Regions from separate parts of the Homo sapiens genome. Here regions 1, 2 and 4 are each linked to region 3. The links come from fine-mapping of genetic effects on gene expression. A gene starts in region 3. Each other region holds a variant in brackets. All regions are shown on one strand. Distances are from middle to middle.

The links.
Region 1: its variant is fine-mapped to the expression of FHL2 in whole blood (INTERVAL, PIP above 0.99).
Region 2: its variant is fine-mapped to the expression of FHL2 in ileum (CEDAR, PIP 0.95).
Region 4: its variant is fine-mapped to the expression of FHL2 in whole blood (TOPMed, PIP above 0.99).

The regions. Positions count from the first base shown.
Region 1 is chr2:105,424,150-105,429,297 of GRCh38, reverse strand. It overlaps a transcript of FHL2 not described here. Among named protein-coding and RNA genes, the nearest start is that of FHL2, 28 kb to the right of the region's middle. RefSeq lists an enhancer at 1,388-1,889. The variant G/A (reference allele first, on the strand shown) is at 2,853.
Region 2 is chr2:106,135,055-106,140,202 of GRCh38, reverse strand. The region is part of intron 6 of UXS1 (UDP-glucuronate decarboxylase 1); the gene reads left to right. Among named protein-coding and RNA genes, the nearest start is that of UXS1, 57 kb to the left of the region's middle. The variant G/A (reference allele first, on the strand shown) is at 2,316.
Region 3 is chr2:105,396,107-105,401,254 of GRCh38, reverse strand. FHL2 (four and a half LIM domains 2) reads left to right here and starts at 2,204. Exons shown (of 7, transcript NM_001318895.3): 1 at 2,204-2,413; 2 at 4,558-4,608. RefSeq lists silencers at 2,101-2,230, 2,251-2,470 and an enhancer at 1,601-2,423.
Region 4 is chr2:105,371,310-105,376,436 of GRCh38, reverse strand. It overlaps FHL2 (four and a half LIM domains 2), which reads left to right. Exons shown (of 7, transcript NM_001318895.3): 4 at 2,704-2,878. It also overlaps a transcript of C2orf49 not described here. Among named protein-coding and RNA genes, the nearest start is that of FHL2, 25 kb to the left of the region's middle. RefSeq lists an enhancer at 2,263-2,542. The variant G/A (reference allele first, on the strand shown) is at 2,328.

The DNA.
Region 1 (5,148 bases), 28 kb before region 3:
ATTCAGATGTGCACATTTTGGGAGACCATCATTTTGCTACCAATTACTAAGAGGCAGAACTGCGATTTGACTCCCAGCCGATTTCTTGACCATCATATTGTGGGGCAAAGTCTTTGGTGTTTATTAAGTCCTTTTTCCCCCTTGTGGCAGTGGAGGGAGGGTGGAAACCTCTGGATCCCAGATTCAGGTTTTGTATGCCACATTAAACAGGACAGGTCATCCCCTTCTGCCCTTCTCCTCTGCAGTATAGGACGCCAAAGGCTCACAGTTAACTTTCAACATTGTTTTATCTTATGAAGGTAAGGTTTAAAACAATCCATCTCACCCCATCTCCAAATATATTATTGACTTTTAAGCAACCACAGACGTTTGATAAAAGTAGGTTACAAAGTAAAAATGAAAGCCTAGCATGGGGACAGGCCATGACATGCCTCCCATCCAACAGGGTGTCTGTACAGAGTACAGAGCAGCCGCCAAGGGCAGACCTGGAAGCAGGATCCCCACAGTAAGAGGAGCAGGTAAGGAAGAGCTGAGGCGGCCTAGCTCAGAGTGCTCCAGTGAGGGACACAGGGTCCGGGCACACAGGTGACCAGGGAGAGCGTGGCAACCCAGGCCACAACAGATAGAAGCTCCAGGAACCAGCCTAGCAAGGTGGCAGAACAAGCTGACCCACACGAAGCCAAGGGACAGGGCAAGCATGGTCATGGGGCAGCCATGGGCGGGCCTGTCCGCAGGAGAGGGTAGTAGACGGTCCTCCGAGTCAGGCTGGCGGCCTATGAGGAGCCCAACCTCTCAGGGATGGAAAGATCCCGAAGGTAATTCCAAGGCCCAGCAAACCAGCCAGGTTTGATCCACCAGGGAGGGAGCAAGTCAACAGGACATGAGAATTATTTGGGTACAAAAGAAGTGGGGTTGCAGGGAAACTAGAAGCTGGAGATGAGCTGTAGTTTGGGGAAGATGGGGTGTTCACAGCTCAGCAAGCCCCTGGCTCCCAAATCTGTGTCAGCTGAGCTATGTCCAGACCTCACCTATGGGTGGCACGGGCCGCCCTTACACATATACGCATACCTCCACTCACTTGGGGGTGGCTCAGGGCCTCCAGGACTGGAATCTAAAAGGACCTTTGTTCCTCCAGGTGGGAAAGACTAGGGGCCACCCTCAGCAGGCTTCTAGTTGACTGAGACCTTTTATGACCATGAGTTCTCAGAACAGGATTACTTACCTGGTACCCAGTTGCTTTGATCCTTTGCTTAATGTGAGCATCACAGTGTTAGAAATCAGAGGTGAATTTACATGGGCTGTGTGTTTTTGTGACAAAGCAATAAGAATAAAGTAGACTGCATACTCTAGACATACTTTCCTCAGTTATTCATACTTAGAGTGACTATTGAATTTATGGTCCAAACTGAGGCACTTTTGAGAGCACTTTTAATAAGTATGTGAGGTCCACAGGTGTAACTGCTGGTTCTCGGGGCCCTGTCAGAGGGGGTCCCTTCTCTGAGCCCAAAGCCTCACACCCAGGCACCCAGGGCCTAGTGAAGCTGCCTTAGCTGTAAGCACAATGGTTTAGAGGGATTATTCAACATCTAAATGCTTGCCTGCAACCTCAAACACTCTCATTCCTTTCACATGCAAGACAAGAAATGCTGAATAAAGTTTCTTTTGAGGCAGACCAATGATGTAACTCCCTCACAAGGGCCTCTGTTCGAAAGTCAGGGACACGTTTATCCTATTGATTATTGACATTTGAGAGTTGCACCTCCATCCCCCAAGCCCCGGAGCTCACTTTTCTTTTGTGACATTGTTCTAAATTGAGGTGCTTTTCTGCTGCCCTCTCCACATGTTCACAAGACACTCTCTCTTGTCCAGACTTCACTGAAACAGAAGTGTTTCAAGCTCCGGGTGAGTTTCATAGTGCATATCATGGGTCATGAAATCAGTTCAGTGGATTGAGATCAGCATATTTTTAACAACAAAATGAAATTGACTAGAGCAGGAAAAAATAGAATTAAAGGGAATAGAATGCTTTTCACATAGTAAGAAATTCTTTCCAGAATTTTTTCATGACAGTATATTTTTCTAGCATTAAATGTGAGGGTGATTGATGTGGTTATGATGTAAAAAATGTACTTCCTGGTGTGGGCAGCCACCAAAATTTGCAGTCCCCTGCTATAAACCATCTTTGCAGGTTTTCTTTTTCCTTTCGCCTGGATTCTTACAGTGCCAAGGGCGGCTCTCTTACTCCTACACACCCCTCTCAGGCATCCTCCATTCTCTGCAGATGGCTTAGTTTGATCCTTTAGGCTAGAGCCAACGAAATGCCTTCCTATTTGATCAGTTCTATCAACATAAGTCTTTATCGAAAAAGGAAAAGAAAGAAAAAGCCAAAACCTTGCACCATTCACCAAGGAGTGATAAGGGCCATGTGAGTAGAGATCTCTGAGAAGCTTCAAAGCAACCCGGCTAATTCTCAGCAACCCCACACCTCCTCGGCAGCATCTGCACCCCAGCACTATTTGTGCCTAAGTGTGGGAGTGCTGGGTGTTGCTGTGCGTGTGTTCTCATGCACCTCCCTTCTGTGCCACAACATAAGTGGAAAATATCTCCGCCTGAGTGCCTGGCCCCCCTTCTGCATTGTTTCGGGGTCTTTGCAGCAGCACAGGGGCTTCTAGCCTCTTCCTGTAATTTTGCAGAAGGTAGGTGCAGGAGTGGGGAGCCCTCACATCAAAGGCTGCCTTCCAGGACTGCTGGCTCAGGGAAGGGAGGAGGGTGACCCTGGTGCAGAGCAGAAGAGAGCGACCCTAGGCAGGATGTCTGGAAGGAGAGATAAAAGCAAACTGCAAAGGTATTTT[G/A]ATAGACCATGCTGTTTCCATTCTTTACCATGTGTTTTTCATTCTGCTTTTGGTTACTTTTGACTTGAATTATGGAGCCTGGTTAAGGTAACATAGATGCAATTACTTTTATACGTCAAAAATGAATACTGACTTTTCCTAGTGGGGCTGGGGGTGATGGGAAGTGGCTAAGACAGAATGCACATTGCCTTTTAGAAAGCTGGAAAGTTCTTTTCTTCTCACTTCCTTATGGCAGCAGAGAACCTGTTTTTCCAAGAGCTAAGAGCACTTTGACAAATGCACCGGGTAAAAGCTTGCATGCAAGATAGAAAGACACCCCCGATGATGACATAGTGTGGCCATTACATTGCCGAAGAGGAAGCAAATACCAAATACATCTATATTATATATGAAGGAGTGGCCTGCCCCTCCACACCTGTGGGTATTTCTAGTTGGGTGGGACGAGAGACTGAGAAAAGAAATAAGACAGAGAGACAAAGTATAGAGAAACAATAGTGGGCCCAGGGGACCGGCGCTCAGCACACCAAGGACCTGCACCGGCACCGGCCTCTGAATTCCCTCAGTTTTTATTGATTATTATTTTCATTATTTCAGCAAAAAGGAATGTAGTAGGAGAGCAGCGTGATAATAAGGAGAAGGTCAGCAAAAAACATGTGAGCAAAAGAATCTATGTCATAATTAGGTTCAAGGGAAGGTACTATGACTGGACGTGCACGTAAGCCAGATTTATGTTTCTCTCCACCCAAACATCTCAGTGGAGTAAAGAATAACAAGGCAGTATTACTGCAAACATGTCTCGTCTCCCGCCACAGGGCAGCTTTTCTCCTATCTCAGAGTTGAACAAATGTACAATCGGGTTTTACACCGAGACATTCAGTTCCCAGGGGCAAGCAGGAGACAGTGGCCTTCCTCCATCTCAACTGCAAGAGGCTTTCCTCTTTTACTAATCCACCTCAGCACAGACCCTTTACGGGTGTTGGGCTGGGGGACAGTCAGGTCTTTCTCATCCCACAAGGCCATATTTCAGACTATCACATGGGGAGAAACCTTGGACAATACCCTGCTTTCAAGGGCAGAGTTCCCTGCGGCTTTCTGCAGTGCATTGTGCCCCTGGTTTATTGAGACTAGAGAATGGCAATGACCTTTACCAAGTATACTGCTTGTAAATATTTTGTTAACAAGGCACGTCCTGCACAGCCCTAGGTCCCTTAAAACCTTGATTTTATACAACACATGTTTTTGTGAGCTCCAAGTTGGGTCAAAGTGGCTGAGGCAAAGTGGCTGGGGCAAAGCTACAAATTAACAACATCTCAGCAAAGCAATTGTTTAAAGTACAGGTCTTTTTCAAAATGGAGTCTCTTATGTCTTCCCTTTCTACATAGACACAGTGACAGTCTGATCTCTCTTTCTTTTCCCTACAATATATATATACTTTAAGTTCTGGGGTACATGTACGGAATGTGCAGGTTTGTTACATAGGTACACATGTGCCACGGTGGTTTGCTGCAACCATCAATCCATCATCTACATTAGGTATTTCTCCTAATGCTATCCCTCTCCCAGGCCCCCACTCCCTGACAGGTCCTGGTGTGTGATGTTCCCCTCCGTGTGTCCATGTGTTCTCATTGTTCAACTCCCACTTATGAGTGAGAACATGTGGTGTTTGGTTTTCTGTTCCTGTGTTAGCTTGCTGAGAATGTTCCAGCTTCATCCATTTCCCTGCAAAGGACATGAACTTATCCTTTTTATGGCTGCATAGTATTCCATGGTGTATATGTGCCACTTTTTCTTTACCCAGTCTATCATTGATGGGCATTTGGGTTGGTTCCAAGTCTTTGCTATTGTGAACAGTGCCACAATAAACATATGTGTGCATGTATCTTTATAGCAGAATGATTTATAATCCTTTGGGTATATACCCAGTAATGGGATTGCTGGGTGAAATGGTAATTCTAGTTCTAGATCCTTGAGGAATAGCCACACTGTCTTCCACAATGGTTGAACTAATTTACACTCCCACCAACAATGTAAAAGTGCTCCTATTTCTCCACATCCTCTCCAGCATCTGTTGTTTCCTGACTTTTTAATGATCAGCATTCTAACTGGCATGAGATGGTATCTCGTTGTGGTTTTGATTTGCGTTTCTCTGATGGCCAGTGATGATGAGCATTTTTTCATGTGTCTGTTGGCTGCATAAATGTCTTCTTTTGAGAAGCGTCTGTTCATATCCTTTGCCCACTTTTTGATGGGGTTGTTTGTTTTTTCTTGTAAATTTGTTTAAGTTCTTGTAGATTCT
Region 2 (5,148 bases), 740 kb before region 3:
AACCCCAGCTCCCGGGGGCTGAGCCAGTCTCTAGTGTGTGCAGCCTTTGCCCTAAGTAAATACATTTGACATGAAATGAAGGGAAAATCTTGCTGTTCTGCTTCTTTGTGCCGAGAGAAATTTGGTCTTTATACTTTGAGAAGTTCTGTATCTTCTTCATTCCTGTTTTCCATCCTAAATACTGGTTCTAGAGACAAAGACTAGGGCCATGCTGTGAGACTTCACATTGCAGAGAGGGACATCTCGTTGGGGAGTATTTCTGTAAGACCTCTGACTCAAGTGTAGAAAAAGAGAATTCTACTGTAAGTATCTTTTATGATGGGAATTTAGTATGTGCTAAATAATCGCGTGAGTTATCACAGAAAGAACTAACCCACTGTTTTGCGTTTTAGTGTTTCTATAGTCTTTAGTTTCATGGTACAAATCCTGAACTGGTCCTTGGCAGTTTCATACAGCATGGGTGTGGCACAGAATGAGGCTTGACACAGACTATGTCACTAACTTAAGACAAAATTAAAAAAGAAAATCAACAAAGGAGTGGAAGCTACAGTCAGTTTTTATGTGGATTTCCCCTTTGGTAGAAGAAAATGTCGATTTCTCCGATGTGTTCTGAACAGTGGTTTCAGGTTATCCCGAGTTGTTCTCCTCCTATGGTGATTTTTTTCTTCCCTATGTATGTGTCATTTATGTGGGTTTTGGGCACAGTGAAATTCAACCTAAGACCCTTTAGGGAGTTCATTTGTGGTTTGACTGGTTGAGTTTCCCCAGTCAGGATTCATAGAAGGGCCGAGTAAGTCGCAGCTGTGCCCTCACCCAGCCACTTCCCAACATAAGATTACCCTGCATGCTCTCTGGTAGGAATGCTGCTGATCATTAATTGGAGCTCTTTTAGGCTCATTTCTTGAGACTTCTATTTTTCTAGCTGAGCTCCCAGCACGTGGCCTTGTAAATGTGAAAGGTCGTGGCAGGGTCTCTAGCGGTCTCTGGAGCAACTGTGGGCACCCATGAATGGGCTGCCTTTCTGTCCCCCTTTGACTTCCTCTCCCCACCTCAGCTTGGATTTTGGAACGTCAGGCTCATGCTTGGTGTACTCTGAACTGTGCAGTTGACATGTTCCCAGGGCCTTTGTCCTGGGCTGTGAGGGTTAACCTTGCTGCTTTATTTATATTCCGAAGCCGGTTGTTATTAATGTTACTTACTGTTTACCTAGCACCTCTCATTGCTGGTTATTTGTCCCTGCTCTGAATTTCCCCTCTTCTCTCCCCTTCAGAATTTCTCACCAGATTATTTAACCAACAGACTCTGCTGCAGTGCCCTTTTTAGGATAGGAACTGGAGTTATTGTTAATGTTACAGGAAGAACACATTCTCAAAGGAGAGGGGGGTGGTGGGAAACTTTGATTTTCATAGGGTTTTCAGTTTCCTCTCAAATGGGAGGATGCAGCAGTGCCGCTACTTAACTGAACGTCTCGACAGTCTGATGGGGCGGCCCTCAGCCTTCCGGAGCAGCAGTGGGACTGACCTGTCCAGTGAGGAAGAAACACTGAACCAGATGGAATGGCCTTTGGGGATGGAAAAACCCCAGTTTACGCTCATCTCTTCTCTCAGCTAACTTTTGTGGAGCCCTGTTCCCAAACTGGCCTGGGCCAGAGCACCGTGGAGGGGTATTTGTTGTAAATGGAAGGTTTCCAGGCCCGCCTGGAAATCCTGAAGGGTGAGACCTGCAGTGGGCTCAGGAGTCTGCATTTGTGGGTGACCGAGGGGGCCTCCCCTCCCTCTAGAGTCCACACTGTGGAGAGCATCAGGAAGGGAAAGGCCTGCATCTTGTGCTCAGTGAGCTCATCGTCTAGTGAGGAAGGCATGTGTGAATCTCTGGACAAGGCAGCGCTGAGCTGTTGTGGACTAGTGGTGCAGGCAAGGGATTATTTCTGACCAAGGATGGTGAGAAGGTTTCCCATACAGACTGACGTCTGGATTGAGCTTTGAAGAAGAAAGCCAGGACTGGAGCAGACGACGAGGAGGGAAGAGTGTGAGGTTAATGATAGTGGCTTTCTGTTTGATGTCGGAGAGGCTTCCTGTACTCTCAAGGCACACTTCTTCCCTCTTAGCCTTTAATGCAGTTTCCTGTCTTTCCCTGCATACCTTGTCACCTCAAGAGTAAAGATAATGATGAATAATTTGTTGTGTAAGATCACAGCCCATACAGAGTTGTTTATACTCTCTTTGAGGAATGTAGGGTGACCCTGTCTGTGTAAGCAGAAATGCCCGTGAGTATAAGTCAGGTGGCAGCAGGCTCCAGGTCTAGCACACCTGAGC[G/A]GGCTCTGTGGTGTCGTACTCGGCTCTGAAGGTCTGGCCAGGTTCATTTTTTAAAATTTTAATTTTAATTTTTAAATTTTATTTATTTTTTTGAGACGGAGTTTTGCTCTTGTTGTCCATGCTGCGGTGCAATGGTGCCATCTTGGTTCACTGCAACCTCTGCCTCCCAGGTTCAAGTGATTCTCCTGCCTCACCTTCCCAAGTAGCTGGGATTACAGGTGCCTGCCACCACACCTAGCTATTTTTTTTTTTTTATATTTTTAGTAGAGACGGGTTTCACCATGTTGGCCAGGCTGGATTCGAACTCCTGACCTCAGGTGATCCACCCACCTCGGCCTCCCAAAGTGCTAGGATTACAGGTGTGAGCCATTGTGCCTGGCCCTCATTTGGTTTTCAACTTGGCACAGTCCTGCTCCAAAGTGGCAGTGGGTATGAGGAGGAATCTTCAGAGGAGGCAGCACAGTGCCTGTTTCTGGGGCTAATGGTCTGCTGCTTCTACCTGCAGCCCTGGAGCTTGGAAGTAGGTGTAGCAGGAACTGACCCGGTCTGTGCTGATCCTAGCTGGAAACTGCAAAAGATAGCTTGGCCTTAGAATTATGGGACTTTGTGAGAACTGATTTTTAAAAGGTATCTTGTTAAATTACAATTTGTATAATACAATATTAGTTTGTCTTTTATTTTTAGCTGTTTTTCAGCTCAGAATAACTTGTGGGGGTGGGAACAGCAGTCGCAGGATTTCCTTTTACTTGGACAGATCCTCTCAGCGAACTTGCATTTTGACAGACCATCAATAATTTTAAAGATTTTGTGTTTTGTTAGTTCTCTTTACAAAAAGATTATTCTTCCCATAAGCATTGGTTCTATTTCTAAATTAACTCACTGGTTTTCAGACTTGGCTTTCTTTTTTTTTTTTTTTTTTTTTGTGTGTGTTCTTGACTTCTCCATTCTTTTTTTTTTTCTTTTTTTATTATTATTATTATACTTTAAGTTTTAGGGTACATGTGCACATTGTGCAGGTTAGTTACATATGTATACATGTGCCATGCTGGTGCGCTGCACCCACTAACGTGTCATCTAGCATTAGGTATATCTCCCAATGCTATCCCTCCCCCCTCCCCCGACCCCACCACAGTCCCCAGAGTGTGATATTCCCCTTCCTGTGTCCATGTGATCTCATTGTTCAATTCCCACCTATGAGTGAGAATATGCGGTGTTTGGTTTTTTGTTCTTGCGATAGTTTACTGAGAATGATGGTTTCCAATTTCATCCATGTCCCTACAAAGGACATGAACTCATCATTTTTTATGGCTGCATAGTATTCCATGGTGTATATGTGCCACATTTTCTTAATCCAGTCTATCATTGTTGGACATTTGGGTTGGTTCCAAGTCTTTGCTATTGTGAATAATGCCGCAATAAACATACGTGTGCATGTGTCTTTATAGCAGCATGATTTATAGTCATTTGGGTATATACCCAGTAATGGGATGGCTGGGTCAAATGGTGTTTCTAGTTCTAGATCCCTGAGGAATCGCCACACTGACTTCCACCATGGTTGAACTAGTTTACAGTCCCACCAACAGTGTAAAAGTGTTCCTATTTCTCCACATCCTCTCCAGCACCTGTTGTTTCCTGACTTTTTAATGATTGCCATTCTAACTGGTGTGAGATGATATCTCATAGTGGTTTTGATTTGCATTTCTCTGATGGCCAGTGATGATGAGCATTTTTTCATGTGTTTTTTGGCTGCATAAATGTCTTCTTTTGAGAAGTGTCTGTTCATGTCCTTCGCCCACTTTTTGATGGGGTTGTTTGTTTTTTTCTTGTAAATTTGTTTGAGTTCACTGTAGATTCTGGATATTAGCCCTTTGTCAGATGAGTAGGTTGCGAAAATTTTCTCCCATGTTGTAAGTTGCCTGTTCACTCTGATGGTAGTTTCTTTTGCTGTGCAGAAGCTCTTTAGTTTAATTAGATCCCATTTGTCAATTTTGGCTTTTGTTGCCATTGCTTTTGGTGTTTTGGACATGAAGTCCTTGCCCACGCCTATGTCCTGAATGGTAATGCCTAGGTTTTCTTCTAGGGTTTTTATGGTTTTAGGTCTAACGTTTAAATCTTTAATCCATCTTGAATTGATTTTTGTATAAGGTGTAAGGAAGGGATCCAGTTTCAGCTTTCTACATATGGCTAGCCAGTTTTCCCAGCACCATTTATTAAATAGGGAATCCTTTCCCCATTGCTTGTTTTTCTCAGGTTTGTCAAAGATCAGATAGTTGTAGATATGCGGCATTATTTCTGAGGGCTCTGTTCTGTTCCATTGATCTATATCTCTGTTTTGGTACCAGTACCATGCTGTTTTGGTTACTGTAGCCTTGTAGTATAGTTTGAAGTCAGGTAGTGTGATGCCTCCAGCTTTGTTCTTTTGGCTTAGGATTGACTTGGCGATGTGGGCTCTTTTTTGGTTCCATATGAACTTTAAAGTAGTTTTTTCCAATTCTGTGAAGAAAGTCATTGGTAGCTTGATGGGGATGGCATTGAATCTGTAAATTACCTTGGGCAGTATGGCCATTTTCACGATATTGATTCTTCCTACCCATGAGCATGGAATGTTCTTCCATTTGTTTGTGTCCTCTTTTATTTCCTTGAGCAGTGGTTTGTAGTTCTCCTTGAAGAGGTCCTTCACATCCCTTGTAAGTTGGATTCCTAGGTATTTTATTCTCTTTGAAGCAATTGTGAATGGGAGTTCACTCATGATTTGGCTCTCTGTTTGTCTGTTGTTGGTGTATAAGAATGCTTGTGATTTTTGTACATTGATTTTGTATCCTGAGACTTTGCT
Region 3 (5,148 bases):
CAAGGACTTAAGAAAAGAAAAATATATGTGTGTGTGTAATCACATTATCACCCCTAACATAAATTGTTCATTAATACTAGAAAATATCCTGTCAGTGTCATATTTTCCAAGGTTGTCTCATAAAAATTGATTTTCTACTAGTTTATTCTTTGATTAGAATCCAATAAGATCCAAAAAAAAAAAAAAAAAAGAATCCAATAAGATCCATACATGGCAGTTGGCTAAGTCTTTTTTTAATCTCTTGGTTCTGTCTCCATCTCTCTTGTTTTTCTTTGTGCATCGTTGTTGTAGAAACTGGGTATGTTTGTTTCCAGAGTCCGGATTTTACTGACCCTATCGAATGACCACAGGGTCATTTAAAATGTTCTGCTACCCATTAGGTCAAAAATTAAACACAAAATTAAATTGCAGAATTTCTTAATAATAAAACACAACATAGCTGAACCTATGTGACACAGCTAAAGCAGTTATTAGAAGAAAAATAACAGAACTAAATAACTCTATCAGTAAAAAAGCAAAGCTAAATGGATTACACCCGTAAGTCAGAAAGCTAAAAAAAAAAAAAAAATTAAAATATAAGACAAAAGGAATCAGAAAGAAGATAAATGCAGAATTAATGTTTCATCATTTTAGGGCTTGTTTTTACAAACTGAAGCTTAAGACTCACCATTTGAGAACTAGGAGACCATTTCCTAATTTGTAACGATATCAACAACACATCTAGGTAGCTGTCAGGGGCTGGGAGCCTTTTCTACACAAACTTTGCTCTGAATTTCAAAATACTAGCCTGTCTTGACACTTAGTGGAAATTCAGGTAGGGTGGCCTTAACTCAGGTTCTTCAGGAAAGCGTCCTGTTTCAGGGACACAGTGGGGTGGGGTCGGGGGAGGGCTGTATTCCGCACATCTAGTTCTGGCTGGGCTTATGGCAAGTCTCAGTCCTCTGGAGTCACCTGAGTGACTGAGGGATGAGAGGCATTTCTGATCCCGTAATATACTTACATGGCTTTGCCATCTACCACATCCCAGTTCAAATCTCAGCTGGCACAGTTACCGTTCACGTGGCCTGGAGCAAATCTGAGCTGAACTTTCCTCACCGTAAATCTGGTAAAAATCTTTACCTTAAAGGAGTGTGGATCAAATGAGATACCAGGTAGAGCTAGTGCTCACCGAGTGGAAGCTAAGGTGATGAAGCCCCTTTATTCTCAAGTTCTGTGATTCCATGATGGAGACCCATGAGGCCTACCAGACGGAGAGTATCAATTAAAAGAAAGCAATCACGGAGTTCTTCCCGCCTTCTCTGGAGGATGTATTCCTATGAGCTGCCCCGAATGTTAAAAATAATACACCTGCCCCCAAAGTGCCGAGGACGCCTTTGTGGTCCACCTACTCATCGTCCACCGGTTTCTGCAAGTGGACCGGTTACCTGCTCAGGAGCAAATGTTTCCATCACGACGCACCCTCTCCCAGGGATGGGCTCAACCTGTGCTCTCCCTGCGACAATGCTGAACAGTGCCATCTGTCCCTACCCAGCGTCAGCGTCACGCAGAGGGCCCGGGCTTGGAATGTGGGAGGCACGCTCCCAGCTCACTTTGGTTTTCCCGCCCTGGAGGGGAATCCAAGATGTCTAACTAGTCTTCTGGCCCCGAGAGGGAGAGGTGGGGATAGGACCTTCCTTTAGTCCCCTCCGTAGTGGAACGAAGGATTCTTTATGGTCATCTGTGGTGTTCATTTCGTAAAGAAGCATCTGCAGGGTAAGAAGGAAAAACGTCCACCTTGCAAATATATCCCAGGCACATGCCTCCTGAGAAGTGACCCCCTCCTCCCTCCGCCTCCCCCGGCACGTCCTGGGGCTTCTCCAGTCTCCCGCTCCTGGGACCAGGCAGAGATCCCGGCGTGGGCAGACCCCTGCCACCGCGCCCAGGCCTCGTCCGAAACTCGCGCCCGAGAGCCCACGCCGGAGGCGACGCTCCCGATAACTACTGTGCTCCCAAGACCCGGAGGGCACGAAGAAAGGAGCCCTGGCAAACAAAGGGTACGGGCCGGGACCGCCGCAGCCCGGGGCGGGGGCACGGCAACCGCGAGGCCTGGGGGCGCCCGCCCCCCGCGCCCCACGCCCGGTGCCAGCGAGCCGAGGCGTGCATCTCCTTATATGGTCAAATGACACGGCGGGGTTTCTCGAGGGCGGGAGCTGCGCAGCGCTCCACTCGGCCGGCAGCGGAGCCGCAGCCACCAGCCGCCCGCGCCCTCCAGCCCCGTCCGGGAGTCCCCGGCCCGCTGCGGTGCCGTGAGTACCTCCAACCCCCTGCGCCCCGGAGGGAGGCCGAGGGGCTTAGCCACCAGGGCTCGGAAGTGGGGGCCGAATCCGGTGCGAGACCCAAGGAGAGGGGAGCAGAGCCGGAGTTGGGGAGACTGGTGAGAGGAGAGCAGAGCTGTGGGTCCGGGAAGACCACTGGGAGAGGGGACCCGAACCGTGCGGGGAGAAGCCGGGAGAAAGGAGTTGAGCTGTGGGGTAGACCCGGGAGAGGAGAGCCGAACCCTGGGGGTTGGGGGTGGGGAGACCACGGGGAGAGGGGAGCGGAGCAATGGGAGGGGTCTAGACCCTGGGGGCGCTGGAGCTCAGAGGAGCCCACCGACTCATCCCCAGAGGGAGGACTGCAGCCCGCGTCCTCACCAGGTGGGGCACCGCCATGCGGGCAGGGACCGGGCGAGCCTGGGTAAAGGCTGGCCGCGGGTCCCAGCCGGCGGCTGCGGGGAGGTGACGCTGTCCGCCTGCTTCCAGGCCCGACTCCCGAGCGGGCTGTCCTGGCACGGTGGTCTGCGCGGGGGAGTCCGGGCCATTTCCCTTTAGTAGAAATAAGTGGAGTTTGCAGTGTGACCTCGCTCCTTGACTCAGGTAGACATTTAATAACTGAACCATTCGGTTAAAACAAAAATGGCTTATTTTAAATGAAAAGATTCTAAGTTTTTCTTAAGTCGCACTCGTGTGATATCTTAGCATACCAGAAATAGAGGGAAGAAAATATTGAGTGTTTTTCTGATTTTAAATGAATCAGTCATATTTATTTTCATATCCTCAGTCGGGTTTTAACTGGAAGTAGGCTAATCCGGTTAGCTGAAATGTGTAGCTGGCTTGCAAGCAGCAGTGTACTTAGACATCACTGAACTTAAGGCCCGCACTCCCTTCCACATATTTTGGAAGGTAATAAATCACAATTTGGGTTTAGAATCAGGAGAACTGTCTTCAAAACACAACTCCCAATACATCTCACATTTTTGGTGCTGACTCTACTAATGAGTGTTTTATAATAATATATTAAAGAAAAGAGGTTTTGCACTATCCTGAAGATGTTTTAGACAAAAAAAAACAAAAAACAAAAAAACAAAAACCATTTGCATCAAGTCTTAGAAGTACAGGAATTCCTAGTCTATCAATTAAACTTTAATAAAACCAAACTCAAAGAACATTTCATTGTGCATTTATATAAAATTTTGTCAAGTGTTACTGGATTTAGATCACCCCCCAGTTTAGAAGATCATCAGTTAATACACAGAATTGTGTTTCCACGGTGTTTATTAGCCTGCCATGGTTTAAAATGCGTTTACACCATAACATGTCGATGAAGGCTAATGATGGGCTTACTACAGACCAGAAACTGTTCTGGGCACATAGGTTCTGTCTCATTTTAGCTCACCGTCTCACAAATAGCCACAGGCAGATGCAGTAGGCTAGGGGATGCCGGGGACTGCATGTAGGCTGCCTAAATTTACATCCGGGTCCCTCAACCTGTGCAGCCTGGGCCAAGTCACTTAATCTCGTAGTGTCTCGGTTTTCTCCACTGGGAAACAGGGACAATGATGTTGTCTTTTTGTTAGGGTTGTTAAGAAGCCTGGACATCATAGACAGTGTATACATATTTGATAGCCTCATTTTTACAGGTAAAGACACTGAAAACAGAGATCAAAGTAACTTTAACTCAGGGTTTCCCGGGCTGTAAATGGTAGCCCTGAGATCTGACCCCAGGCAGCTTAACTGGAGAACCTGAGTTCTAACCACTAAACGCACCACGGGAGGAACATTTGAATATTTATTTATTTTTTTTAACATTTGAATATTTCTATGAGGCCTTATGATGCATACTTTGACCCAAGATTGCGTGTTAAACCATTTCCAGTACTGAAAGATATTTAAATTGCAGTCAAAAACGCCCAATAGAATATTGCCAAAAAAAAAAAAAAAAAAAAACAGACTAGATATCAGGAGTAGTTTACTCCTGTCCTGTGCCGAGGGCCAGTTACTCAGCCTCAGTGACTCAGGCAGCCTCCTTTGTCAGCACCGGGCCTGAGTCGCTAAGCGGCTCTCTGACTCAGATGCCCTGAGGTACAAAGTTCCTTGAGCTTGGGTGAATGGAAACATTAGACATTGGGTTCTTCTGTGCGGTTTTATTATGAGAATTTGATCAAAGCCACATTTATTAAGTGTCCATCTCAAGTTGCATTATACTGAGTTCGCTTCCTCAAGATGACCATCTGAAACAAAACACGTGTGCTTTCTCTAGTGGCTGAGAACTGTGTCTTCCTGGAGACTAGGCTGGCATTTTGACTTTGGGGTGAGTCAAGTGAATTTCCTCTGTTATCCTAAATTGTGGATTTCAGTTTTAGCTACTGTGATGGTTACTTTCATGTGTCAACTTGACTGGGCCATGCGGTGCCCAAACATTCAGTCATATGTTCTGGGTGTGTCTGGGAGGGTGTTTTTGGATGAGATTGACATATGAATGGGTAGACTGAGTAAAGCAGGCTGCTCTCCATAATGTGAGTGGGCCTTGTCCAAACAGTTGAAGGCCTGAATAGAACAAAAAAACTGAGTAAGAGGGAAGCCCCCCTGCCGGACTGCTTGAGCTGGGACATTGGTCCTTTCCGCCTTTGGACTCACACTGAAACATCGGCTCTTCTTGGGTCTATAGAGTCTCCTCTTTTCAGACTGCAATTTGCACCATCGGCTCTCCTGGGTCTCCAGCCTACTGACTGCAGGTCTTGGGACTTTTTCACCTTCGTAATTGTGTGAGCTAAATCATTGCGATAAATCTCTCTATGTACATCTCTTGTTGGTTCTATTTTTCTAGAAAACCCTGACTATTACAGCTCTC
Region 4 (5,127 bases), 25 kb after region 3:
TACTGAGCCACATTCATTTAGGTACAAAATATGTTCTAGAAAGTTGCCAGAGTTTGGTCGTTTCTGGATTTTTTTAAATGAACACACACACACATCTCCTCAAGGCTATCTGTTTTGAAAGCAAAGAGTAACACAGACCCGACCAGGATTTTGCCTGGGCTGGTTCAGTGGAAATAACTTTCGCATCAGGAGGACTTGAGCTCGAAGCTTGGCTTAGCTCCGTGCCAGGTATGTGACTGGGCAAGTTACGGAACTTCTCTGACCTTCAGTAATAACATTTACCTTGCAGGGCTGTGCCGTGCCTGGAGCTCACAGATGGGGTAATGATGGTCATCACTAGTGTTTCAGATGTCTTTTTGAAGCCGGGGCGTGTGCATGGAAAGAATGGAGACCATGCCTGTTCCCGAACGATGATGATGTCCATGTGGATTGTGGGCTTTGCTGTTTCTCATGAGTTCACATGTGTAGACATCAACTCAAATCAAAGCAGTTTGTCCTCTATTTCACTTGTCAAAATAACCAATAAAGCACAGGTGATGTTCCCCTCAGATTTCTGAAAATACTTTAAGCTAAAAATACAAAAGACAGGTTAGCCCTCTGCCCCCAACTCCCAGTGCATACCCAGTTTGGGTTCTCAAGGATGAAGAGGGCTTGGGCATTTCAGCAACCTGCCCCCGAGTCCCCCTGACAGGCAGTGCCTACCCCAGGGGACCCACAATACCCAGAGGTGCTGGGCTCAGGTGAGAATGAATTCCGCAGAAACAAGGGCATTTAGTCCAGCTTTGAGAGCACTCTATGCTCCTCTCACCTTCATTCCTTTTGTTTTGAGACTGAGTCTCCTTCTGTCACCAAGGCTGTGCAACCTCCACCTCCCAGGTTCAAGCGATTCTCCTGCCTCAGCTTCCCAAGTAGCTGGGACTAAAGGCATGCACCACCACGCCCGGCTAATGTTTGTATTTTTAGTGGAGATAGGGTTTCGCCATGTTGGCCAGGCTTGTCTTGAACTCCTGACCTCTCCTTCATTCTTTATCGTCTTGCGTCAGCAATAATCCTATTCCCAGATGTTCTAGGAAGCAAACTTCCAACAGGGATAGCACAAGAGGTCACCCCTCACAAAGGCCATAGTCATGACTGTCTTCAAAGTGTCTCAGCGTTCACATTTTTAAAATTCCTTGAACTAAAACAAAATGCGCAAAGAGATCACTAAATCAAATAACTAGTTTGGTTCCAGGTTCCGGGAAAACACACATACATGCACACATGTGCACACGCACGCGCACACACACACACACACACACACACATACTTCAGCAAAAGAGAACTGTTTGTTCTAGTTTTGGTTCCGAGTTAGCTGGTGTTTTAGGACTTTCTAATCAAGGCCAAGATCCATGTCTTCACATCCTACATTCAGCATAACTCCAGCTTCGACTTCGGTTTCAGTAACAGAGACATCGTGGGCAGGCTCTTCTTCAGGGCCATCGCGTGAACAGCCCTCCTGTGCCCTGTTCAGGATACCTACCAACTGGAAGCCTGCCCAGGAAACCGTGCAGAGCCTAATACTCTGTTTCTGCCTCATGTATAAATGGATGATGATTTGGGGTCAGAGCTGGGAACACAAAGACAGCAATAGAAACATATCCTTTCTAAGATAAAGCTGGGCATAAAGAGATTGTTATTTTAATTTTGTGTTGGCACTTTAAAAATGCCGTATGTCATTTTTAAAAGGCAAATATGGAGGGTTCTCTTATTCCTCAGGCAAGATGAAGCCAAGTGTGGAGTCGAGTTTTCTGCGGGGCTCCTTTCTCTCCCTCATCTTTTACTCAAAAGCACACGTCTGTCTTCTCAGGGCCTCTCTCATGTGTGCTCAGTTTTTGTCTCACTTCTCCCACCCTCACGCCCCTCCACTCCCACATCCTTACCCGTCCCCCAGTCTGAGCACTTCACTCTCCTGTTGAAAAGCAGCTGTCCACTGCCTTCAGGATCAATGGAATCTCTACACAGACATAAAAGGCAAAAAGGCAGCCATATCTTCCAGTCCAGCCAGGCCGGGGGGCCCTCCCACCTCGCCCCTGGCCTGTGGTCCCTCCAATCTGACATGCCCCCCGTCCCCAGATCTTCTGTGTCTGTGCTCTTTCTCTGCCTGAAATTCCCTTCCTCCCCCAGCTCACGGCCACCCACAGAGGTAGCACCCACACACACAGTCTCTCCTGACCGTCTCCCACCAAACAGTCCTTGGGCCTCCTGTGAACATCCCGACACCCAGAGCCTCTCTGCCATGCCGGTGACCACAGTGATCTGAGTTGGGCAGGGCTCCCTCAGCCAAGGAT[G/A]TCCTGCAGTCTGTTTCTCTGTCACCGGATGTGGTGTGAGACGAATTGATAGGTGTTCATGTTTTCTGTTTCTCTTTCTTGCAGGCAATACATAAGGGAAATCCCTTTGTTTTTTAGAAGCATCTCTCACACACAGACATGTGCATACATGCACATCTGTCTAACCTGTTGCTCTAAAATGCAGCAAGAGAAAAGCAGCCTAGTCTTAATTGATTTCAGCAGTTAGGTGGTCCTGGGGCATGAATGTGGGTGCGCCAGGGTGCCTCGGCCCAACTTCTTTCCTTGTTTGCCCTGCAGATTCGCAAGGGGCCCCTATGCTGTGGGTCCAAGCCCTCCTGTCCTGCCTCTGACTGTCTTGTGTGGTCTGGCCCCACAGGACTTGTCTTACAAGGACCGGCACTGGCATGAAGCCTGTTTCCACTGCTCGCAGTGCAGAAACTCACTGGTGGACAAGCCCTTTGCTGCCAAGGAGGACCAGCTGCTCTGTACAGACTGCTATTCCAACGAGTACTCATCCAAGTGCCAGGAATGCAAGAAGACCATCATGCCAGGTCAGGAGGCACTCCTTTCTCATGCGTGAGCCAGTCTAGCTTCAAGCCTTGTGCACGTTCCTCTGACCCCCTGTTCACATTGACTTGGTTCCAGACACTCGTGTTGACTTTCCAGTTTGACCTTGAACTGCAGAGGAGTATTTAGAGTACTTACGAAGCAGGGACATACAGGTTCTATCATGGGCAGTAACGGGATCTTTTTGCTGTGCACGTGGGGCAGTGTTATGCAGTCAAATTGTTAGAGTAAGAAAATGGTGGGTATCCCCCTTAAAAATACATCTCCTGCATCAGCCCCCACTCTCCCACCACCATAGATAGTTTCTCTTTTCTTCCCTTCTACCTGCTGAATTTGTACTCATTCAGTTATTTCACCAAGTGTGCATGGTGCCCTTGCGTGCCAGGCACTGGGCTCGAGCTGAGCATTCGTAGGGTGTGAGCCGAGGTGCACCTGGTCCTCTGCCCTTGTAGAGTTGGTGTTCTAGACGGACAGTCAAAAAGGGCACAGCCGCAACTGGGCCAGGTGCCGAGGATGGCAATAAAGGTGCCTTGTGTGTTGATGGGACTGTGTCCCTCATGGTTTTTTTGTGTGTGTATGTGGGGGGAGTTATTTGTTTTGTTTTGTTTTTTATGTAGGAGAGCAGAATCTTTTATTTTAAAAAGCAAAGTGGACAAAAATATGTGGAATTTCAAAATACAGAAAGAAGCTGGGTGCGGTGGCTTATACCTGTAATTCCAGTACTTTGGGAGGCTGAGGTGGGTGGATCACTTGAGGTCAGGAGTTTGAAATCGGCCTGGCCAATGTGGTTCAGTGGTGCAATCTTGACTCACTGCAACCTCTGCCTCCCAGGTTCAAGAGATTCTTCTGCCTTAGCCTCCTAAGTAGCTGAGACTACAGGCGTGCACCACCACACCTGGCTAATTTTTGTATTTTTAGTAGAGATGGGGTTTCATCATGTTGGTTTGCTTTGTTTTTGATAATAAAGAAATACTGAAGAGACTGACATATGGGAAATAGTTTAGAAATATATGTAGGATGCCAGGTGTGGTGGCTCACCCCTGTAATCCCAGCACTTTGCAAGGCTAAGGAGGGCGGATCACGAGGTCAGGAGTTTGAGACCAGCCAGGCTAACATGGTAAAACGCTGTCTCTACTAAAAATACAAAAAATTAGCCGGGCATAGTGGCGGGCGTCTGTAGTCCCAGCTACTCGGGAGGCTGAGGCAGGAGAATGGCCTGAACCCAGGAGATGGAGCTTGCAGTGAGCTGAGATCACGCCACTGCACTCCAGCCTGGGTGACAGAGTGAGACTCCGTCTCAAAAAAAAAAGAAAGTTATGTAGGATAAGGAATAATCATTTTTTAAAAAGGCAAGGAGGTAATCTGACCTTTGGTAAGATGGTTTCTTACTGCCACTACATTTCTCTGGTTAATATAACTTTAAAACAACTGTGACACACTATGACAGGGAAGAAAAATGCCCAGGCTGACACAGTCCCAGCCCTGTTGGCAGCTGTAAGGGAAAACAGCTGGAAGGGCTGCATGGTGACTTTAGATGGGGCAGCTCCAGGCAAGAAGGCCTCTTCTAAGATCATGTGGATCCTGCAGAGGCTGGAAACTCGGGCCCCAGTGCTGTGCGACAGTGCAAATGAGAATTGAAGCCCGTAGAAAGCCAGGCTGACCTGTGTCCTGCCCCACAGGGAGTCACTGCAGAGACACAACACTCAGTAACAATAAGAACCACGACATTAATTGAAAAACAAATTAAACCCTTACTAGTTTCCTGAACAAGGGCCCAAGGAAGCTTCCACTGGGGACTCTAGGGGCTGTTTAAAGACTTTAACTGTTAGCACCAACCATGACATAAAAAGTATGCATATTTCCCGGATTTTGAATTTTTCACCTGTCTTGACTTTCTGTGTTAGTCACGTTCTCCAGAGAAACAGAATCAATCAAGGAAATGTATACACATAGATACATACATAAGGAGAGAGAGAGAGAGAGAGAGAGAGAGAGATTTCAAGGGATTGGCTCATGAGATTGTGGAGGCGGTAAGTCTGGAATCTATAGAACAGGGCAGCAGGCTGGAGGCTCAGGGAAGAGATGATACTGCAGTTCCAAATGGGAGCATTTGAATTCCGTAGGGCGGCAGGCTGGAAACTCAGGCAGGGTGTGTCTATTGCAGTCTTGAGAAGAATTAGTTGCCCTTAGGGAAACCTTAGTCTTTGCCCCTAAGGCCCACTACCGATTAGAT